Linked DNA regions of Homo sapiens: region 1 is linked to region 2. Evidence: fine-mapped expression QTL. Tissue or cell type: testis. Region 2 holds a variant in brackets; the other region holds the start of a gene. All regions are shown on one strand. Distances are between the middles of the regions.

The links. PIP is the estimated chance that this variant, and not a neighbour inherited with it, causes the effect.
Region 1: SSC5D starts here. The variant in region 2 is fine-mapped to the expression of SSC5D in testis (GTEx, PIP 0.95).

What each region holds. Positions count from the first base shown.
Region 1 is chr19:55,483,817-55,491,816 of GRCh38, forward strand. SSC5D (scavenger receptor cysteine rich family member with 5 domains) reads left to right here and starts at 4,620. Exons shown (of 14, transcript NM_001144950.2): 1 at 4,620-4,798; 2 at 5,190-5,216; 3 at 5,538-5,846; 4 at 6,066-6,179; 5 at 6,482-6,592; 6 at 6,956-7,264. The coding sequence starts at 4,774. ZNF628 (zinc finger protein 628) reads left to right here. Exons shown (of 3, transcript NM_033113.3): 3 at 1-671. The coding sequence ends at 557. NAT14 (N-acetyltransferase 14 (putative)) reads left to right here and starts at 1,372. Exons shown (of 3, transcript NM_020378.4): 1 at 1,372-1,442; 2 at 1,845-1,964; 3 at 2,592-3,750. The coding sequence starts at 1,893. The coding sequence ends at 3,140. RefSeq lists a silencer at 1,162-1,581 and an enhancer at 1,682-2,011.
Region 2 is chr19:55,524,813-55,532,812 of GRCh38, forward strand. SBK2 (SH3 domain binding kinase family member 2) reads right to left here. Exons shown (of 4, transcript NM_001370096.2): 3 at 6,331-6,533; 4 at 3,799-5,511. The coding sequence ends at 4,921. Among named protein-coding and RNA genes, the nearest start is that of SBK2, 8.3 kb to the right of the region's middle. RefSeq lists enhancers at 1,345-2,219, 6,394-6,894. The variant A/G (reference allele first, on the strand shown) is at 3,103.

The DNA.
Region 1 (8,000 bases), 41 kb before region 2:
CCAATTCCAGTGGGGGAGCTGTGGCTACTGAGGCACCCAACCTGCTGGTTGTTCAGAGCGGGGCAGCTGAGGAGTTGCTCACTGGCCCGGGCCCCGGGGAGGCGGGGGATGGCGAGGCCAGCACTGGTGTGGTCCAGGATGTCCTCTTTGAGACACTCCAGACGGACGAGGGCTTGCAGAGCGTGCTGGTGCTGAGCGGGGCCGATGGCGAACAGACTCGACTCTGCGTACAGGAGGTAGAAACACTTCCTCCTGGGCTGACGGAGCCGCCTGCCACCGGCCCACCCGGACAGAAACTCCTCATCATCCGCAGCGCCCCAGCCACTGAGCTGCTGGACAGCAGCAACACTGGAGGAGGCACCGCCACGCTGCAGCTCCTGGCCCCACCGCCGTCAGGCCCAGCCTCGGGCCCCGCGGGGCTCCCCGGGGCTCCAGCCTCCCAGATGGTGCAAGTGGTCCCCGCAGGAGCTGGGCCTGGTGTTATGACCCCTCAGGGCCTGCCCTCCATCCAGATTGTCCAGACTCTACCCGCAGTCCAGCTGGTGCACACGTTTTGAGGAGAGGCAGTGATTCCCCTCCCGCCCCGCACAGAGACCCCGACTCACTGCCAGCCGGGGCGGGGCAGGGTGCCGCAGGCTGGGCTTGCTAATAAAGACCCGAGTCTCCCCGCCTGTGTTTTGTTTTCCTGGGGGGAGGGAAGGGGGCAAAGTCATGGTCCTAGCCCCCGCCTGGGAGCGTGGAGTCTTAAGTCTTGCGTCCTGGGTCGCAGATGGCTTGTTCTGCATCCTGGGGCCAGCCACTACGTAGGGCTCAGTTCCCCTGTCCTGAAACCAAAAAAGGCCGCAGGGGTCATTATAGTGGGGAGGTGGTGACATCAGACTCCAGGGAGTGCTACTTGTTCACTGTAGGTCGCCCCGCTGCCCCCCTCGTGTGAGAAGTAGGGGGATCCTTATGCGGAAGGGTTCTGCGACCCCGGGCGCCCCGTGGGTGGAGTGGGGTCCCTGGGGATGGGGGAGTCGGGCGCCAGGATGCTGAGCGTGGCCGGCTCCTCCCGCGAAGGCCCCGGCACGGATGAGAATCCACGCGCTGGCGTCGCCGCCCGGCGCTCAGGTTGCTCAGCAACGAGGGAACGTGGGGCGGGAGCTCGCGCTGGTCCCCAGCCCGCCGCCCGTCTCCTGCCGGCTTCCGCTCCCGTTCTTCCCCAGGTCCCCTTTCCCCGTTGCTCCTTCTCTAGGGATAGGAGAGGTCGCTTCCCGGCCCTCCGCAGGGTCACAGCTCGGTTCCTCCCAGCCCGCCCTCCGGGGAGCTTAGCAACGGTTGCTACGGCCCGGAGCGGGCGCCGCCCCGCCCCACCGCGCGCGGTCTGACGTCACTTCCGCCCGCGACCCCCTTCCAGACCCGCTCCCGAAACCTTGTCGAAGGACCAAAGGCGACCGGTGCAGGTGCTTGCTGGTCCTTGTTCTTGTGGCGCGGGACGGGGACGACTGTGGGGGAGGGGGCGCTGGGGACCGGGGTGGAGCGAGCGTGGTCCGTTCTCTGGCATGTGGGGAGGGTGTTCGTGGACCCCAGTGCCTGGGAGGGAGCCCCGTGCTGCAGTGTTGGCGTCCGCAGCGCGTTTGGGAGTGTAGATCGCTGAATAATACGGGGGAGGGGGGATCCCGGGAGACTTTAGCAAGGTCGCTGAGTATTGTGGGGGGCGCCTGTCCTGCCGAGATCCTCGCTTGGGGGCCCCGAGGGTTCTCAGTGTCCTGATCTGGGAAGTGCCGTTGCTGCTCCCTACCCCTCGGGGGAGCTTTGGGGACAGAGGTGCCCCCCTGACGCTGACCTACTTATGTTCTCACCAGGTGCACGACGCCAGCTCCCTTCTGGGGGGCCGGGGCCTGGGGGTTGCCATGGCCCCCAGCCACCTGTCAGTGCGGGAGATGAGGGAAGATGAGAAGCCCCTGGTGCTGGAGATGCTGAAGGTGAGAGGCAGGGGCCCCAGGGGGCCTGGGAGTGGCTGCAGTGGGGGAATTGCAAGTGGATTCAGCCACCCCCTCCCACCCACCTGAGCCAGCCTGGACCCCTGGAGCGGGATCTTTTCCTCCTGAGCCTCAGCCGCCCTGCTGCTGAAAACCACAGCAGGTGTGGCAGGTGGGGGCTCACCCCCCCAGCCCTACTGGGACCCCAGCACCAACGCCCTCCCTGGTCTCCCATCTCCAGTCGGCTGTGCACGCCAGCACAACAGCCAGCTCTGTGCCTCGGACCCCAACTCTTCAAAGCACAGCCCAGCACCCCAACCTAGCCCAGCAGCCTCCCTCCAGCCTCCACTCCAGCCTGAGGCAACCTCCCTGTCCTTACTTCCCTGGGGCCTCACTGCGGCATTGCTACTGAATTGAGTGCCCCCACAGCTCCTAATTCACTCATCCATCCATCATTCGCTCTCGTTCATTCATTCACTCCATACCCAGTGTGCCACACTGAACATCGGACTGTGCTGCCTTCCCTTCCCATTTGGGAGCTCTCACCCCGCCCCGGGCAGGGTCTACCTCCTCTCTTTGTCCAGGAGGCCCTAGCGTTTCGGATGGCTGAGCCACCCCTCCTGCCCACAGGCCGGCGTGAAGGACACGGAAAACCGCGTGGCCCTCCATGCCTTGACACGGCCGCCGGCCCTGCTCCTCCTGGCGGCGGCCAGCAGCGGCCTGCGCTTTGTCCTGGCTTCCTTCGCCCTGGCCCTCCTCCTGCCGGTGTTCCTGGCTGTGGCCGCCGTGAAGCTGGGCCTGCGGGCCCGATGGGGCTCGCTGCCTCCGCCGGGTGGCCTGGGGGGCCCCTGGGTGGCCGTGCGGGGCTCCGGTGACGTGTGTGGGGTCCTGGCTCTGGCCCCTGGCACAAATGCAGGGGACGGGGCCCGGGTCACCCGCCTGTCTGTCTCTCGCTGGCACCGCCGCCGGGGCGTGGGCAGGAGGCTGCTGGCCTTCGCGGAGGCCCGGGCTCGGGCCTGGGCTGGGGGCATGGGGGAGCCCCGGGCCCGGCTCGTGGTCCCCGTGGCTGTGGCCGCCTGGGGGGTGGGAGGGATGCTGGAGGGCTGTGGCTACCAGGCCGAGGGGGGCTGGGGCTGCCTGGGCTACACGCTGGTGAGGGAATTCAGCAAAGACCTGTGAAGCTACAGACTGACAGCCAGGGCAGGGGAGGAGGGAGGGGCGCCAGCACCTGATGATCGCCTACTGTCTGCGGGTTCTTTTACCTGCTCTCCCTCAGTGAGTCCTCAACCACCCTGGGCCCAGAAACAGAGGCCTGCCGAGGGGAGGAGCCTGGCCTCTGTCCACCCGTCAGCAGTGTGAAGTCTGTTGTGTTTGAGCTTCTCAGAGTGGAATGACTCCTTTTCCTTCCTGGCCCTCGGGGGCCTCTCGAGGTCAGCCTCTCCAACCCCTACCTCAGCTCCTGTCTGCACTGAGAAACCTCCCCGGGTGATGTCTGCAAAGTCTGTGCTGTCCGTGCCCCAGGCTGGGAGAGCTATCTGGGGAGGGGGAGAGGAGGCCGAGCAGAATACACCCCAGAGTTAGGGTTTGCGACTCCGCCTCCCTGGGACCTGGATTGGGTCAGATGCCTGTCCTTGGAGGGGACAAGGTTGACTGCTTAGGAGGCGCGACGCACAGGGCTGCCAGGCCTGGCCCCTCTCTGGGAAGGTTGAGAGCTGAGACGGGCAGCCCTGTCCCTTCCTCCAGATCCGTCTGGTTTTTTACACCGTTTGTTAATAAAGCCTGAAACCGCTGTGTGCCTGTCTCTTCTCTGATGGCTTTCCCAGTCTGTCTCCGGACACCCCCGCCCATTTCTGTCTGGCTTCTCCTTTCCCCAGTTAACATTAATTGTTGGGGGACGGTGCTGGACTGGGAGAAGGGGAGGCTGTGAGCTCAGGGGCAGCCCGAGGCCCTGCCAGCCCTTCTGAGTCACGCTCCCCATTACCGAATTTTTTCCGCCTCACAGCTGCCTGGTGTGCAGGCAGTGGGGTGTGTGTGTGTGTGTGTGAGTGTGTGGAAGAGTGTGTGGAGCCCCTCCCCTTCCCAAGCCTTGACCCTTGTGCTGCTTATCCCCCGACCCCAGCTCCCTCTGGGACAGTGAAGTTCAACCTCTCCTCTCTCAGCTGGGGACTGGGGGCTTCACACTCAGATCCACCAGTGAGTGGGAGGACTGGAGGGCCGGGTCTTTCAGTCTCTTTTCCTAACCCAGGAAGTCCCTCCTGGTGTCTGGCTGCAAATCTTCTTGCTGCTGCACCAAGAACCCCAGGTCTGCCCAGCCCCCAACCCTAGCAGTGGTCTCACTGGATTTCCCTGACCAGACAAGAGGGGAGACAGCAGGTGGGCGCCCCTCCCGCTCATGCTGCGCCCCCCCCGCACACGTCCCCCAACCCCTGTCCTGTGCCTTCCTGCAGCCGGCCACCCCCTAAGCATCTCTGGGCACAGCACTTTGCTGGCTGGAGCCTGCCTGGCCGTCGTCTCCATCTCCCGTGTGGGTGTCTGCAGTTGGACACCCTCCCTCCCGCCCGCCACCCCCCTCCCCCCCATGCCTCAGCAGACGGCCAGCCCCCTCCCGCCCCCCCTCCCCCCCACCGTCCCCTGCCGCCTCCCTGCAGCCTCTTTCTTCCTCCTGGCAAAGCGTCCAGCCCTGCCTGCTCCTCCTCGGGCCTGGGCGCCTCCAGCAGGCACTTCCCTCCCTCCCTCTCTCCCCAGCTGCCTCCTCCTCTTCTCTCCCCGCTCTCCTTCCCCTTTCACCCCATCCCCTGCCCTGGCTGCAACCATGAGGGTCTTGGCCTGCCTCCTTGGTGAGTGATCCATTCTCCTTGGGGACTCGGGGGGCCTAGGCCCCCACCTCTGACCCCTTAGCTTGTCCAGTTTAGGGACTCAAACTTCCGGGACTGGTCGCTGGTGCTCCTGCATACCCTGACATCCCTTCTGAGGATCCCTGCTCAATCTGCCCAGCCTTCTGCCAGCCCAGAAGCCCAAGGGACCTGCCCCCTGCCCGCCCCCCAGCCCTGACCCTGCGGGGGATCTCCCAGACATCTGACCTTTAGCCAAGCCCATGTGTGTGTGTGTGTGTGTGTGTGTGTGTGTGTGTGTGTGTGTTGGGGTATTCAAGATGAGGGGCCTGCGCTGGAGAAAGGGCCACCCCCGGCCTGCCCCTCACACTGCCCCACCCTCCGCCCTCCCTTCCAGCGGCCCTGGTGGGGATCCAGGCTGTTGGTAAGTGCCCAGACTCCTCCCATCTGCCCGCCCCCCCCCCCAGGCCTCCCCCTTCTGCCCATCCAGGCCTGGCCTCACCCCCACTGGGTCCCCGGCCCATCCGAATTCCACTGTGACCTTGGCCCCAGCTCCGCAAGGGAATCCCCCAGGTGTCTGGCCGCATCTCTCTGAGCACCCAGGAGTCTGGGCCCAGGGGCCAGTGAGCAGGGCCACTGGCCTACAGACAGTACCTGCAGGACAGCCACCTGCCCCTACAGTTGCCCTGGCCTTGGGGCCCCCAGGATGCCCCTCCCCAGTCACAGCCATTCCTCCAACCCTCAGAGCGCCTGCGCCTGGCCGATGGCCCCCATGGGTGCGCTGGCCGCCTGGAGGTCTGGCATGGCGGGCGCTGGGGCACCGTGTGTGATGACGGCTGGGACCTGCGCGATGCCGCCGTGGCCTGCCGGCAGCTGGGCTGCGGAGGGGCACTGGCCGCCCCGGGAGGCGCCTTCTTCGGGGAGGGGGCAGGGCCTGTGTGGCTCAGCGAGCTGGCTTGCCGGGGCAACGAGGGGCAGCTGGGCCTCTGCCACCACCGGGGCTGGAAGGCCCACATCTGCTCCCACGAGGAGGACGCGGGCGTCGTCTGCGCAGGTGAGGACACCCTGGCTGCTCCTTCAGGGGGAGCTCCTTTGGAGATGACCCAGGAACCCCAAGTCCTTAGCCCCAGCAAGTCTGAGTGTTCAGCAGTTCAGAGACACCCAACCTCCCATCCCCTCCAAAGCCAGGTGGCTAACTCCCTCTTCCAGGGACCCAAATGGCCTGGATTCCCCTCCTCTCCTCATAGCTTCTGTCCCTGCCCCCCCGCCGCAGGTCAGCGTGTGGCTAACTCCAGGGACGACTCAACATCTCCCCTGGATGGGGCTCCCTGGCCAGGGCTGTTGCTGGAGCTGAGCCCCAGCACGGAGGAGCCCCTGGTGACACATGGTGAGCCCAGGGGACTGCCCTGCCAACCCCCACCCAGCGTGCCCTCCTGCCCCCCCCGAGGGGAGAGGGACTGCCCTGCCAACCCCCACCCAGCGTGCCCTCCTGCCCCCACCGAGGGGAGAGGGACCTCTGCAGTATGAACTCCCAGGGGACACACAGCCCGCCCCCTGCCCCGCCCCGTCTCCTTCATAGCCTAGGGAGTCCTCCATCACTTCAGACCCTCAGAGACGGAGGCCTGGGCCCCCAGGTGGGAGGAAGGATGAGGGGCTCAGCTCCTGACCCCTGGCTGTCTCCACTCCCAGCCCCCCGCCCAGCTGGGAACCCCCAGAACGCCTCCCGGAAGAAGAGCCCCCGGCCCAAGCAGGCCAAGTCCACCCGGGCCCCTCTGCTGACGACAGGAGCCCCCCGCCAAGGTAAGCTCCCTGCAGGCTCCCCCGACCCCAAGGCTGGTTGCTGTGAGGCCCAGGGCCCAGAAAAACTGAGGACCTGCGGGCGCCCTCTCCTTAGCCGGGGCCCTGGAGGGATCCCAGTGTTCCCCGCGTCCCTCCCCCGGGGATTTAGACGGCCAGGCCTGGTCTCCCCTCTTCTTCCTGCCCTGTCAGGAGGCCCAGGTGTCCTGGCCCGCTCAGGTCGTGGACTCACCTCTTCACGGGCTGCCGGCGGACAGATCTCAGGCCACCGCTCCCTCAGGCCTGTTTCCCCAGGTGGAAATCGAGGAAGGGGTGTTTGAATCATTTCTCACTGGCCACACCGTCCCCTCCCTGCTCACCCCACAGAGCGGCTGCGCCTGGTCTCTGGCCCCCACAGGTGCGCCGGACGCCTGGAGGTCTGGCACGGCGGGCGCTGGGGCACCGTATGTGACGATGGCTGGGACCTGCGCGACGCTGCTGTAGCCTGCCGGGAACTGGGCTGTGGGGGGGCGCTGGCTGCCCCCGGCGGTGCCAGATTCGGGCCTGGTGCAGGGCCCGTGTGGATGGACGATGTGGGGTGTGGAGGAGGAGAACAGGCCCTCCGAGACTGCCCCCGAAGCCCCTGGGGCCGGAGCAACTGTGACCACAGCGAGGATGCGGGGCTGGTCTGCACCGGTACGTCGGGCTGGGGCCTGGCCCCCTCCTGTCTTCCTCAGACCCCAGCTCCCTCTTGCCCCTCCAGGAAGCTGCAGCGGGCCTGCTCCCAGCTCTGCCTCCTGCCCGCCTGCTCTCTGCATGCCCAGCGCCCACTCACCACGCTCTCCAGCCCCTCCTTCCACAGCTCCTGCCGTTCTCCTTGCCAGGAATGGGAGGAGCAGGCTTGAGGCTTGGGCTAGTGCTCAGCCCTGTCCCGGGGCCTAGGCCAGTGACCGTTTGTTTAAGCCTCAGTTTTCCTGAAGGAGCGATGGAGCTAAGAATGCCTGCCTCAGGCTTGAGCCAAGTCCTGGAACGCAAGAAGCCCTGCCTGCCCTCTGCCACCGGGCTGGCCATGGCAGGGGACCGTCTCGGAGACCTCTTGTCTCTGTGGCCAACCTCTGCTCCTTCCCCATCCTCAAGGGAGCTGGTGGGAAGGAGGGAGGGAGGGCGGTGACTTGGGGGCATGGAGGGAGACTGAGGCAGGGTGGGGACACCCACGGGTGAGCCTCCATCTCCCCTCATTCACGCCCCCTCAGCGCGGGGTCTCCTCCCCTCATGTCTCCCAGGGGGTCCCTCCCCTCTCCTGTACCCCTTGGACCTGGGATAGAACCCAGCAAACAGCGGTTGGGGGGTGTTAGGTGAGAGCTCAGGGGCTCCCTCCCTCCTTCTCTCCTTCCTTCCTTCCTCCCTCTTTCCCTTTCTCTTTCCTTTCTTT
Region 2 (8,000 bases):
CAATTGACTTTGTCCAGATCCATCAGAGGAATCACTATATATGACAGCTATAGCCTTACAAAATGTATTTCTTAAATAATGATACTTGAAAGCAAAATTACTAAGGCCAGGTACGGTGGCTCACACCTGTAATACCAGCACTTTGGGAGGCCAAGGAAGGAGGATCACTTGACGTCAGGAGTTTGAGACCAGCCTGGCCAACATGGTGAAACCCTGTCTCTACTAAAAATGCAAAAATTAGCCAGGCGTGGTAGCGGGTGCCTGTAGTCCCAGTTACTCTGGAGGCTGAGGCAGGAGAATCACTTGAACCCAGGAGGCGGAGGTTGAAGTGAGCCGAGATCGTGCCACTGCACTCCAGCCGGGGTGACGAAAACAAAACTCTGTCTCAAACAAACAAAAAACAAAAACAAAACAAAACAAGAAAGAAAGAAAGAAGCAAAAAAGATAATACAAACTCTCAATAAACTAGTTGCCCAGGCTAGTCTCAAACTCCTGGCCTCAAGTGATCGTCCCACCTCAGCCTCCCAAAGTGCTGGGATTCAAGGCATGAGCCACCGCGCCCGCCCATGCTTTTATATTCTTTCACACACGTGCATGCTTTCTCATACAGTGTCTTGATCTCTCACACATAGTCTCATAATCTCACACTCATCCTTACACTCACATCTACACCTGTACTCAATCAAACGTTTATGTTCACCCCCACACATACAGCTCGCTCACGCTCACAAGCTTACTCCCTCATGCACACTCACAATCACCCGCACACACACCCTCACCCCCACCCGCCCACTCACCCACACCCCCGTGCCCCCAAGCCCCTCCTCCCGCTGAGCACGGCAGGACATCCCTGCAGGTTAACAGCAGGGACCATGTGCTGGAGCCCAGCTGGGTTCGACTCCAGGCTTTGCCCCCCGGCCCGGTGTGTGGGCACGGCGGGAACCTGGCTGCCCCGTGCGTGAGATGGGCAGAGCCCAGGGACCCCCGCCACCATCTTGGGGACAGGTCGGGGAGCAGACGTGGCCTCTGAGATCCCTGGTTGGGGTTCAGCCTCCGGCCAGCACTAAGCATTACTTAATTAGTGTCGTCCCTGCCTGCCTGCCTGCCGGGGTCAGGCCATTCCTGGGAAGTTTATGTCCTCCCCTGTGCTTCACCCATGACAGGCTGGTCATTATCACCTTTCAGATAATCCTCAGCTGCCGCCAGCAATCAACACCTCGTGCCCCCCTGCCCCCTGCCCAGTCTCCACTCCCACCCAGCATGCCGCATCCCAGCCACCTCCAGCTTTTTGGGACACATTCTTGGCCTAACAGCTCAGGCTATTTCAGATTCACAGATAAAGGGGCAGGAAGTCTTGATATATTCCACCCCCACCCCCCACCCCCCGCGTTGTTGACTCCCCTCTTCTCCCCAATGATCCCTACTCCAGGAAGCTCACCCGGATTGTCCAGGTCAGAGGCCCCAACTCTATGGCTTGAACCTGGATTCGAAGGCTCCTTGGGGTCACTCCACAGGAGCACACCTGCTGTCAGCCCCGCTCCAGGCAACACCTCGGTGGCCACAGCAGGCGCCCTGCGGGGTATGCAGGGGCCAGGGAGTGCGTGACACACGATCCAGCTCCGAGTTGTAGCCTTGCTCTGGGCCTGAGGCCAAGGAGGGCGCGGAGAGGAAGAGACAGTGTTTGCAAACAGGGCAGCTGCCAAGCAGGGGCGGGGGAGAGAGGAGGAAGGTGCGAAGGAGAGAAGGCCCAGGCGGCGCCCGCCCGCGGCGCCTGCGTGACCTTCCCACCCTGGCTACACATTGACAGGCATATGCGCGCACACACACGGATCCGATGTCCACACATAGCAAGTCACATTCACTCCCCATACACACAAGTACGTCAGCACACACAAGCTCAGATGCTCATGCAGACACAGCAGGCACAAAGCTGTATTATCATCCACGTGCAGTGAGACACACAACGCCATCCTCCCTCCTTTCCATGCATATGCATTCACACACGTGCACACACATGCTCACACATGCACACTCACACTGGCGTACACATACTCATGCTCACACATGACATTCACACTTGCACACACGTGCACACACACTTATGCTTACACATGTACACTCACTGGCGTACACACTCATGCTCACCCACGAATTTACATGTGCACACATGTGCACACTCATACATGCACACACATTCACACTTGCACACATGCACACACACATACTCGTGGACACATGAATACTCACTGGCACACATACTCATGCTCACACATGACACACACTTGCACACATGTGCACACTTGTACTCACTTATGCATATGCATACTCAATCGCACACACACGCACACACTCACACACACTCATGCACAGGACAGTCACACTTGCACATATGTGCACACTTGTACTCACACGCACGCACACACATTCATACTTGCACACATGTGCACACACACGCAAGTCATGGACACACACGCACAGTCACTGGCGTACACACTCATGCTCACCCACGAATTTACATGTGCACACATGTGCACACTCGTTCACACTTGCACACACATGCACACACATACTCGTGGACACAGATGAACACTGGCACATGCTCACGTATGACATTCACACTTGCACACATGTGCACACTTGTACTCACATATGCATATGTATACACTCAATCGCACACACACTCATGCACACAGGACATTCACACTTGCACATATGTGCACACTTGCACACACACATTCACACACATTCACACACATGTGCACACTCACGCACACACACATACTCATGGACACACATGCACACTCACACTCATGGACACACATGCACACTGGCACACATACGCATACTCATGGACACATGCACACTCACACTCATGGACACACATGCACACTGGCACACATACGCATACTCATGGACACATGCACACTCACACTCATGGACACACGCACACTGGCACACATACTCATGCTCACACATTACTGACTTGCACACATTTGCACACACATGCACACACTCACAATTGCACACACGCGCACACACTCGCACAATGTGCACACTCGCATGCACGCACACTCACACTCAGACACGTGCACACTCACTGGC[A/G]CACACTCATGCTCACGACATTCACACTTGCACAGATGTGCACTCTCACACTCATATGCACACGCATACACTCACACACATGCACACTCACACACACTCATGCACACATGCATATAGAGTTCCTTGATGGAAGCTTTGAGAACCATATCTTTCATTCCATTGTTAGCACACAAACTTTGGTTTGGTAAAGGAGAGGGATTCTTAGAAGCAGGTGGCTCACTCCCTCCTGCCCACAGCTCTGCCATCAGGACCCCCTGCAGGACAGCAGGGAGGCTCAGGCAGCACCATGAGCTCAGGCAGCTCATCCTCGCCCCTCCGTCTCTCTCTCTCCCTTCCTCTCTGTCTCTTTTCTGTCTGTGTCTCTCTTCCTGTGTTTGTCTCTCTCCATCTCTGTTTCTCTCTCTGTCTCTGTCTGTTTCTCTTTCTATCTCTGTATGTGTCTGTGTCTGTTTCTCTCTCTCTCTTCCTCCACCTGTTTCTTTTTGTGTGTCTGTTTTTCTATCTGCATCTCTCCTTCTTTTTCTCTCCCCCGTCTCTGTTTCTCTGTGTGTGTGTCTCTGTCTCTCTCCATCTCTCCCTGCTGTTTCTCTGTGTCTCTGTCTCTCTACCTCTGCACCCCCCTCCCTCCTCCACACGTCCTCTGATGCACACTCCCCTTCTCGTTCCCGAGCAGACAGACTCGCAGCAGCACTGGGATCTGAGCGCCAGATGGAGTTTATTTGCAGAGTGGCTGGGGCGAGAGAAGGCAAAACACATCACAGAGAGGGTGGTGCCAGGTGGGAGGGAGACCCGGCCGGAGAGAAGGAGAGAGGACGGCGGGAGGACAGGGACGGAGGGGAGGCTGCGCCACACCAGACAGGCTAATTTATTTAACAGACATTTCCTGATCCCTGCTGCAGGCCATCGCTGAGTACATGGGGTCTGTCAGCAGACGGAAGGCGGCAAAGACCCCCGACTCCAGGAGCTCACAAAATAACCACAAAAAATAAGCCATGCAGTTAGAAGAGGATACACGTCCTAGAGCAACAGCAGAGTGGGGGGATGAGGAGGCAGACAGTAAGCATTTACAACGCGCAGCTGTAATCCCAGCACTGCGGGAGGCCGAGGTGGGAGACTCGCTCCAGGCCAGGAATTTGAGACTAGCCTGAGCAACACAGCAAGACCCGCCCCCAACCATCTTTTTAAAAAGTTAAAAATTAGCCTAGCGTGGTGGCGCATGCCTGTAGTCCCAGCTACTCAGGAGGCTGAGGCAGGAGGATTGTTTGAGGCCAGGAGTTGACACCCACCTGGGCAACATAGCAAGACCCCTCCATCTCTAAAAAAAGTTAAAAATTAGCCTAGCGTGGTGGCGCATGCCTGTAGTCCCAGCTACTCAGGAGGCTGAGGCAGGAAGATTGCTTGAGCTGTGGATTTTGAGACTGCAGTGAGCAGAGATAGCACCACTGCACTCCAGCCTGGGAGACAGAGCGAGACCCTGTCTCAAAAAAAATAAAAATGCGAGGGGTGAGGGGATGAGCCTAAAGTGCCCTGAGCAAACAGCAAGTGCAGAGGCCCTGGGGAAGGTGGCGGCAGGTACCGAGAGCCACGCGGAGGTCTGAGACCCTGGGGAAGGTGGCGGCAGGTATGGAGGGACATGCAGAGGTCTGAGGCCCTCATGGACCAAGGGAGGAATGCAGCCTGCAGAGAGGAGAGAGGAGGAGGACGCCGAGGGGAATCCCAAGCCCCATGGATGAAAACACACCGAGGAGACACCAAAAGCCGTTGGCCTTGGGGGCCTCGGGTGGGGCGGCTTCCCTTTCTGCATCCCCCGGGGCCTCCTCACTGCCCAGCCTCCTCTTCCACCGCTCCCACTGCCTCCGCCTCGCCCTCCCGCTGCCTCCAGGGGCGCCCCAGGTGCTCCCTGATGGCGATCACAGCGCTCCTCCTTCGGGGGTGAGGGTCCAGCAGCCCCCGCAGAAGCGCGTCGGCCGCGGCGGCCAGGCCGAACCAGGGCTGAGGGCGGTCCCGGGGCTGGCCCGACGCCTGCCAGATGAGGAAGTCCTCGTAGAAGGGGTCGGCCTCGGCCAGGGGCCGGTCCCAGGGGAAGTAGCCCGTGAGGAGGCAGAAGAGCAGGACGCCCAGCGCCCAGGCGTCCAGGGCGGGCTGAATGGGCAGGCCCTCGGGGAGCGGCGGGGGCGCGCAGAGCTCGGGGGCCGTGTAGGGGATGGGCGGCCCGGCCAGGCGCAGCAGCGTCCCGCGAGGCCTCGTGTGGCCGAAGTCGGTCAGCTTGAAGCGCCGGCAGGCCGGGTCGCACACCAGGACGTTCTCCGGCTTCAGGTCCCGGTACACCAGGCCGCGGGCGTGGATGTACTCCAGGGCGGAGGCCAGCTGGGCGGCGCAGCGGTGCACCGCGGGCTGCGGGAGGCCCACCTGCGGGGAGAGGGGTCAGGGCCCAGTGCCCCGGGGCCACGGAAGGCAACCGAGACCCAGGAAGCAGGCCCAGGACGCCAAGGAGGCCGGTAAGGAAGACGGTGAATAGTTGGCCCTGTGAGGCCTAGTGTGACCTGTGAGGCCTGCGGGTTTAGTGTGGCCTAGGGTGACCCCGTGAGGCCTAGTGTGACCTGTGAGGCCTGTGGGTTTAGTGGGGCCTAGTGTGACCTGTGAGGCCTGTGGGTTTAGTGTGGCTTAGTGTGACCCGTGAGGCCTGTGGGTTTAGTGTGGCCTAGTGTGACCCGTGAGGCCTGTGGGTTTAGTGTGGCCTAGGGTGACCCCGTGAGGCCTAGTGTGACCTGTGAGGCCTGTGGGTTTAGTGGGGCCTAGTGTGACCTGTGAGGCCTGTGGGTTTAGTGTGGCTTAGTGTGACCCGTGAGGCCTGTGGGTTTAGTGTGGCCTAGTGTGACCTGTGAGGCCTGTGGGTTTAGTGGGGTCTGGGGTGACCCTGTAGGACCTGTAGGTTAAGCGGGGCCTCGGGTGACCCTGTAGGGCCTGTGACTTGATTGGGGTCCAGTGTGACCTGGGGCTGCCTGGTGAGTCTCCATGGTGTATCGTGTGAGTTCTGTGATGTCTATGAACTCCAAAGAGGCCTAACAACTCCACGAGTCCTGTGGGCCCCACGAGGGGCCTCCGGGGGGTAGGGGAGGCCCAGGGAGGCCCAACGCAGTGGCTGTGGCTCCTGCGGCCCAGGCTGCTCAGGACGTTCCTGGGAGGCCGGTGAGGCACTCGGAGGCGGCCTGGGGTCTGCCTACGCACCTTGGGCTGGATGAAGGCCATGAGGTCCCCGTGCAGGACGGGCTCCGTCAGGAAGCTGTAGGAGTGTGCCGACTCGATGCCAATGCCGTAGGCCGTCACGATGGCTGAGTGCGCGCCCAGCGAGAGCCCCACACAGAACTCGTACAGGAAGCCACGGAGGGACGTGCGGGGTTTCGGGAGCTGCTTCAGTGCCAGGGGTGTGCCTGGGGCAGCAGGGACAGGTATGGGAGGCGTGCAGCAGCCAAGGGCCACCTGGGCCAGCTGCTCTGTTCCCCTGTGGTCCCCTCAATGGCCCCTCAGCTTGGACTCTTTCCCATAGACCATCTCCACCTCCTCCAACTCCCACCTCCCTCCTGAGCCCATCCTAACAGCATGGCCACCCAAGCATCACCAGCGGTACCAATAGTTATAGCACGCTGGGGACCAGCTGGGGGCTCAGGCCTGCGATCCCAGCGCTTTCAGAGACCGAGGTGGGAGGATCCGTTGAGGCCAGGAGTTTGAGACCAGCTCGGACAACACAGTGAGACCCTACCTCTAAAAAAAGTTTTAAAAAGGCCGGGCACTGTGGCTCACGCCTGTAATCCCAGTACTTTGGGAGACCGAGGCGGGTGGATTGCTTGATGTCAGGAGTTCAAGACCAGCCTGGTCAATATGGTGAAACCTCTTCTCTACTAAAAACATAAAAATCTAGTTGGGTGTGGTGGCGCATGCGTGTAATCCCAGCTACTTGGCCGGCTGAGGCAGGAGAATTGCTTGAACCCAGGAGGCAGAGGTTGCAGTGAGCCGAGATTGCGCCACTGCACTCCAGCCTGGGGGACAGAGTGAAAAAAAAATTAAAAAAATAATTAGCTGGGCATGGTGGCATCTGTAAAAAATTAAATAAAATAATAACAGTACGTGGTGAATTTCTACCTTGCTTTCTTACAAGTCTATAGCCATGGAGATGGAGGGATACCATGAAATTTCTCCAATGACCTCGTTTGGCTTCTCATGACAGCAAACTCGTGTTTGAGGCAAAAAGGTATTTTTGAGACACCTGGGGAAAAGGTAACCCACACTGGGTAAGAAAGCCAATTAGGAATTGTGGATTTTGTCACGTGTGGAAACGACTTCCTAGAAGCTAAACTCCCCGAAGGAACTTCTGATGTCTTCCTTTTTTTTTTTTTTTTTTTTTTTTGAGATGCAGTTTCACGCTTGTTGTCCAGACTGGAGTGCAGTGGCGTCATCTCGGCTCACTGCAACCTCTGCCTCCTGGGTTCAAGCGATTCTCCTGCCTCAGCCTCCCGAGTAGCTGGGATTACGGGCACCTGCCACCATACCTAGCTAATTTTTGTATTTTTAGTAGAGATGGGGTTTCACCATGTTGGTCAGGCTAGTCTTGAACTCCTGGCCTCAGGTGATGACCCACCTCAGCCTCCTGAAGCATTGGGATTACAGGTGTGAGCCACTACACCCGCCCTTTTTTTTTTTTTTTTTAAGACAGGGTCTTTCTCTGTCGTCCAGGCTGGAGTGCAGCAGCACAATCATGGCTCACTGCAACCTCCGCCTCCCGGGCTCAAGCGATTCTCCTGCCCAAGCTCCCTGAGTAGCTGGGACTACAGTTGTGCACCGCCACTGGGCTAATTGCACACCAAGCTGATTTTTTTCCCTGACACCAGAAATTCCTGCTA